2 separate regions of the Homo sapiens genome follow, and region 2 is reported to be linked to region 1. Evidence: microRNA targets listed by miRTarBase, many of them from high-throughput screens and not tested one by one. Region 1 holds a microRNA gene; the other region holds the end of a gene's coding sequence.

Evidence for each region. Region 1 holds the annotated microRNA hsa-miR-5089-3p (AUGCUACUCGGAAAUCCCACUGA, at 1,965-1,987, shown strand). A microRNA usually pairs through its seed, bases 2 to 8, with sites in the 3' UTR of a target mRNA and lowers its output. Matches are read on the target gene's strand: a 7mer-m8 pairs with bases 2 to 8, a 7mer-A1 pairs with bases 2 to 7 and ends in A, and an 8mer does both.
Region 2: the mRNA of FICD is a reported target of hsa-miR-5089-3p. Seed matches in the 3' UTR shown: 7mer-A1 at 936-942.

The regions. Positions count from the first base shown.
Region 1 is chr17:46,971,105-46,974,508 of GRCh38, forward strand. MIR5089 (microRNA 5089) reads left to right here and starts at 1,913; the gene lies at 1,913-1,996. It also overlaps a transcript of LRRC37A2 not described here and a transcript of GOSR2 not described here.
Region 2 is chr12:108,519,300-108,522,703 of GRCh38, forward strand. FICD (FIC domain protein adenylyltransferase) reads left to right here. Exons shown (of 3, transcript NM_007076.3): 3 at 1-1,911. The coding sequence ends at 176. SART3 (spliceosome associated factor 3, U4/U6 recycling protein) reads right to left here. Exons shown (of 19, transcript NM_014706.4): 19 at 2,915-3,404. Among named protein-coding and RNA genes, the nearest start is that of FICD, 5.7 kb to the left of the region's middle.

The DNA of each region.
Region 1 (3,404 bases):
CTTACAGTGGATCATTTGAGGTCAGGAGTTTGAGACCAGCGTGGCCGACATGGTGAAAACCCATCTCTACTAACATATAAAAATGAGCCAGGCATGGTGGTGGGTGCCTGTAATCTCAGCTACTTGGGAGGCTGAGGGAGGAGAATCACTTGAACTTGGGAGGCAGAGGTTGCAGTGAGCTGAGATCGCACTACTGCACTCCAGCCTGGGCAACAGAGCGAGACTCCTTCTCAAAATTAATTAATTAATTAATTAAAAAGGAAAAATATAATAAGGACACACTCCATGGCTTCTGCAGTCTCTTCTGAGCTGATAGTCAAGGTCCTGGCATGGCTTGGCTCTCCTCCAGTGCTGGGTTAGGGGCTCTGTGACCCAGTGCCCCACCCTAGCCTGGCCTAACTATATCCTTTGCTGACCTTGAACCCCACACAGATCCTGGCAAAGCTGCATGGCTCCATGAATACATGTATGTACATGTAGGAGCTTTTCATGCACTTTCTCACTTAAACTTTCCAACCACCTAGAGAGCTCAGCTAGAGTACCTCACTTTACAGATGAAGAAACAGGCCTTGGAAGGTGAAGCGACTTTCTCTGATGACTGGAAAGTGTGGAGGGAAGTCCTGCACCCCGACCTGCCTGTATCAAAGACTTGTCTCTCACGCCTCAAGCTCTGTGGTTCTGTGCACACCTCACCAGGCCCCCACTCACCCATCTAACATGTGTTTGTTCTGTGTGCATGTTTTTCTTCTGTGTTCTGGGCCACACCTGTTGGGCACCTCTCCCTCCCCGGCAAGGGGGAAGCTTTAGGAAGTAGAGAGAAAGGCAGGGCACAGGGCCTGGCTCTGAGGAAGGGTCACACTTACAGCCAGGCCTGGGGCTGGTGGGGTAGGCAGAGGGCACAGGGCACGTGGGGGAGAGGGGGGACCTTCCCAAGACAGGGAACTGTCTCAACCATAATCACCCTCAGTGTTGCTGCTTCCCCGCTTTATGTTCTATAGAGACACCCGGAGGGGACAGCCTGCTGTGGTGGGCACTGTGCTGGGCCCAGGCTGTGTGCTGACAGAACCCTGGGGCTGGGCTGGGGCAGGAGGCGAGACCCTGGCTTCCTGCTTTGCTTCTCCCGCCACCCGCTTCTTCCTCCTCTCTTCCCTTCTCCTTCCATCCCATCTTCTCCCTGCTGTCCTTTCATATGCTTCCTCTTCCCCCTTCTTTCTCCTCCTCCTCCTCTCCCTTCTTCATTTCTAGTCCAGCTATAGTGGGAAGAAGTCCCTGCAAGGAGCTCTGGCTCTTGGCCAAGAGGGAAGGAGAACCTGGGACAGGAAAGGATTCCCAGCAAAGGGTTGCACACTGGGCACCCCGAGCCCTTGCTGAACCTCAGCTTTGGAGCACAAGGTGGAATTCAGGTTTGTCAGCCTCCCCAGCTCAGCAGGGAACCAGCAGTCTGCACAATGTGACCGTTGGTGACGGATGTTGGCCTCTGCCCATCTGGCTGCATTGCTGTCAACATACAGGTTCCATGTCCCGGGCTTTCTGCCCAGGCACTCCCCTGCAAAGTGAGCCCCAGGAGAAACCCGGGTTTACAGCTGCTCTGTAGCCCCAAACCCTGTACCCCACTGGCTGACGCTGGCTACCCAAAAAGAAATTATTGAGGCACAGAGGATGGCAGCACTCAATCTCCCGTGTGGACGAGCGTCTCTGCAGTCATATTATTAGCATCTCGAGGGCAGAGCCTGAGTTGCCTTCACCTCTGCAACTTCCTTAGCACCCAGCATTAGGAGAGCGACATAAGACACACCTAAAAAATACTGGCACTGACATGCAAACCTAGGTCTTGTACGTCAAGTTTATTAGGAGTGTAAAACTTCTTGTAGTATTCCCTCTAACTTAGCCAGGTGGGAAAGTGTCAAATAAAAAGGACTTCAGTGGGATTTCTGAGTAGCATCCTTGGAATCTGCACTCAAGGGATGCTACTCGGAAATCCCACTGAAGTCCTTTTAATTAAATGTGTGTGCATGTGTGCAACCCACATGTGTACACGTATACCTTGCCCCCAAAACTGGAATGCCGGATGAGGGCCATTTCTGCTGTACCCACTGCCTCTGCCACTCATTAGCTGAGTGTGACCTTGAGCCCATTATCTAACCACACAACCAGATGACAATCTCATATGACAGCTGGCTTGCTCACTCTCACTCTGCTGCTGCTTTTTTCTTTTTCTTTTCTTTTTTCTTTTTTGCCATATAGATGGGGGTCCCACTGTGTTGCCCAGGCTGGTCTCGAACTCGTGGGCTCAAGTGATTCGCCCACCTTAGCCTCCCAAATTACTGGGATTACAGGGATGAGCCACCACACCTAGCCTCTGTTGCTTCGTTGTTGAAAATTGTTGAGATCTAGCGTTCCCCATGGGTTAAACTCTCCTTATCCATGGACTGGAGTGCACTTATCATGGGATCTCAAGTCTAAGTAATAGAACTATGACTGCAAGGGTGAGCAGGCGCTGCCTCAGAACACCCCGCAATGCTGTCATCTCAGAGGCTGGGACACCTGCCCCGTCTGCCGAGCTGGGGTTTGCTGTCCTGGACACCCCGTGTATCTGCTGTGATCTTTATTGACAAGAAAGAATCTTGCTTTCTTGACAAGAATCTGCACTCAAGAGATACTACTCGGAAATCCCACTTAAGTCCTTTTTATTAAATGTGTGTGCATGCGTGCGACACATGTGTACACGTATACCTTTCCCCCAAACTGGAATGCTGGATGGGGGCCATTTCTGCTGTACCCGCCACCTCGCATGCTCCATTCTTTGCCTCTGAAGCCACCCCCAAAGCTCAAGGCTTCTTTCCATCTACTACTGAGTTGGGGTCTGGGGAGGGCGACCCCCAGCAGCCACAGCCGTGCACCCCTCTATGTGAACTTGGCTTAGACAAGTAAGTAAGAAAGTAAGTGGATGTGGTGATGTAAGCCCTCCCTACTTCCCCCGTTCTAGGGGACATCTTGCTGGTGAAGGCACAGCTGACCCCAGAAGTACTATCCCCGACTCAGAGGACAGGATGTGGGGGATTTGACCTAGGCCCTGAGACGCATGGAACCAGCTACCTGGGGAGCAAAGCAAGTGCCAGGGTTTCTGGGGCGCTGGCCAGGGCCAGACGCTAGGTCTGCCATCCGTTGCTCACCCAGTGCCTGGCACAGTGCCTAGCCCACAGGAGATTTACAATAGACACCGGTGGAATGAATGAGCTTGGACAAGATCAGTAAACAGAATCTTAATTTCCTCTCCTATAAACAGGAAATTAGAGGAGCATCTGCTCCTCTTACCAATGTGTTGTGGGGAGCAAAGGAGGTCATCTCCGCCGGGCGCGGTGGCTCACGCCTGTAATCCCAGCACTTTGGGAGGCCGAGGCGGG
Region 2 (3,404 bases), not on the chromosome of region 1:
ACGTGTTGGAAGCTGCCAACGAGGGCGACGTGAGGCCTTTCATTCGCTTCATCGCCAAGTGTACTGAGACCACCCTGGACACCCTGCTTTTTGCCACAACTGAGTACTCGGTGGCACTGCCAGAAGCCCAACCCAACCACTCTGGGTTCAAGGAGACGCTTCCTGTGAAGCCCTAACCCTAGAAATCCTCAGTGACAAAGGCTGTCCTGAGGTAGGAAAAAAAAAAAGAAACAGCATTTCTAGAAACCTAGTCACTTCCTAAAGCAAAAGGAGAAACATTCTTTACCTCCAAATGTTTTAGTTTTAAAAAAAAAAAAAAACTAAGTTATGAAGCCTTGTCTCTAAAATAACTTATAATTCAACCAAGCTATTTATTTTCTTCTTTGGAGCAAGCTAGTCAGTATTGTATGGTGTCTGCTGTGTCTTGCTGGTGGCCGTGCTTTAGGGGCAACAGTGCCACCATGTGACCAGAACAAAGGTTCTGGAGCAGAATTTGCACTAAGGTGGAGGAGCGGCCAAGAGGTGTGGGACGGGGCCCAGAGCCACTGACATAACTCCTCCAAGTGCTTCTCTGAAACAGGCTGAGAGGTTCTGTGACTGCAACTGGGAAGTCAGACCCAAGTCGCAGCTGAGAGAAATGGTTGAAAGCTCACTTTCTCAAGGTTTAGATTAGTGGTGACTAACTTCCAAGCAAACTTCATAGAAGAGAAAATGAATGCCGACATTCCTTACTTACCTGCAGGAAGACTTTTTGAGCCATAGTTTGCAAACTTTAGTGCCAGCAGCTGTTTTTTTTTTTTTTTTTTTCATATTGAGACTATTTTTCTAATTAAGAATAGGGGGTAGCCATAAAGAGCTGTATGTTGGAGGGGGAAACATGGTGGGCGGGCAGTTTGGTTTTCTTTGTGTATCCGCGTTTCTCTCACACTTCATTTGTAGCAACTCAGGCCAGATGTTTTCGTCTGAAATTCTCTGGGCTTGTCATTCCACCTGTATCGTGCTGCAAACCAGGTGTTATGCTAGTAGGCATCTGCCCTCACCCCTCTGCCTGAGTTTTCTGTAGGCAGATGTTAACCTGAGAAAACAAGTGCCATGTGGACACCAAGTAAGCATTTTTGATAATGAATTAGAGCACCAGTTTCTACTGAATGGAGCAAAAACCTTCAGCCATGGCCAGGCTGCATCCCTTTGGTCCTGGAGTTTCATCTACTTACTGCCATCTTCCACGGTCTTTGCACTGTCCCGTGTCCCATCCCCCTGGGAGGCAGAAGAGATTGCCTCGGAGTGGCCTTATTTTTCTCGCAACTTGTGAAATGATGTAGTGCTCTATGTAATATGGCCGGGTTTCCAAGCTGTCATCCAATGGAAGTAGAATCTTCTCTTTGAATCATATGGTACAGGTGCCAATATGACTGCTGCTATTTAGAGTCAGAGAGGTGGAAGTCACTGGGTCCCTTTCCCAGTGACAGAGCCCATGATGTCTAACACTACTGCACTTTGTCAGTGTGTGAGTGATGGCGAATACGCAGTGTTGTCTCTTTGATTTGGTAATTCCGTTCCTGACAGTAATGAGGCCACTGCTCTAAAGTAGTTTATACAGTTCTTCAGTTGTATAAATAGCACAGAGTAGTTTTTGAAAGGTTAAGAAAAATAAGTGAAAAGACATACACGATATATGAAATGGCTCCAAATGATAATTGTTCAAACCTTTATAAAATGTGTTTTCGTACTCTTATGCTGCCAGAGGTACTTCTTAAAACTCTTCTCGTCTTGGTTTTATAAGCACACCACGGAGGTCTGACAGATGTGCTTGCTTCTACTACAGAGCAAGAGAATTTGCACTTTAGCTATATGTGAAGGATATTATTTTAACAAATTCCTGATTCTAATAAAGTTATTTTATTACATGAATGCTTGAGACTGTCTTATTTGGGAGATGTTCCCATCTGTCATAAGGGCAGTGGGGGTATTCTGACCTTTAGCCCTATTCATAATACTGTTCTGGGAGAGCAACAGATCCAAGATGGTGATTTCCATGGGCAAGAGACCCAGAAGTTGGATAAACCGCCTACCTAGGTGGGCAAGGATGAATTACTGATTTTTTTTTACTAACAAACAGTCAAGTAACTGAAGTAGTTTTTCACATTTCTATTTATCATCAGTTCTGGATTTTCTGGGGAAAACACACAAACCCACTCATGTAGTCCTGGAAATCCATTTCTAGAACAGTCAACACCCGGAACCTAACTGGGTTCTGCTCAAGCCTGAAAAGGTTTGCCCCTGTACCAAGCCTGGGCTGACATCTGCAAGTGTGACATTAAGGTCAGAATACTGGCTGCAGGCAAAGCCAAACCGTTAATGTGAAGCAGCAAAAAGTAAGGCCACACTCACCCATAGTGATATTCAGGGCTCTTCATGTGTCAGGTCCCCAACCATGAGGGCTCTGAGCTACCCAAATCATCACACCAGCTGAACAGTCCATCAGCCTTCCAAGCAGCATCACAGAGAACACTGCAGGAGGAACGCGTGGGACAGCAAAGGTTCTTGCTGCTGTCAATAGCCGCCGCTTGAATTTAATTCAGAAGTAAAGCCTAGTAAAAAGTTGGTTTTGTATAAAAAAGAGATGGAGGGGAACCTACCTTTTAAGACTTAAGAGGCTTACCAACCAATAATTTACAGGGAGGAGAGCTGATATTTGTAGGAAGGTGGAAATTTGAGTGGACAGTTGATGACATGAAGGGATTACCACTAATGTTTCTAGGAGTGAAGGCCTTTCAGTCCTCCTGAGACACCTGCCGCAACATTACTGGATGAGCACAATGACATCTGGAACGTGCCTCAATATAACAGAGGGTGGAGGGGAAACAGACATGAAGGAAGAGGGGCTGGGAGTTGAGGAATGCTGGAAGCTGAATGGTAGGCACACAGGAGTTTATTTTACTGTTCTGTCTACTTTTTAATCGGTTATATTAAAAAATGTTAAGTTAAAAAAATATAGAAAACCCGACTGATGCACAAAAACTTAAACTTACGCAACAGATAAATGAGGAGTTGATTCCCACGACATATACAAGGATTCCCTGACGTCTTTCTCCAGAGTGTCTTAATAAAGCAAGCTTCCCCTACTGAACTGGCCAATGCTGTTGCTGTTTTCAAAGCAGTAAATATTATTTGATAAAAGATGTGAGGTAAAAAAGCTCAAAAGCTCCAGTGTCAAACTGCTATAAAATGAAGACACATCACAGCTGGAATAATTTAAATCAAAGTGACAATGGGATTTGACTTACAAAAGTTCTATTTACACATCTATTAGGTAAAGCAAGGTACACCCACTTCAAAACACATCTGTATGTGAATGCACATCTGAGTACCATTCAGCAAGAAGTTTTGAAGAGAACGTCAGT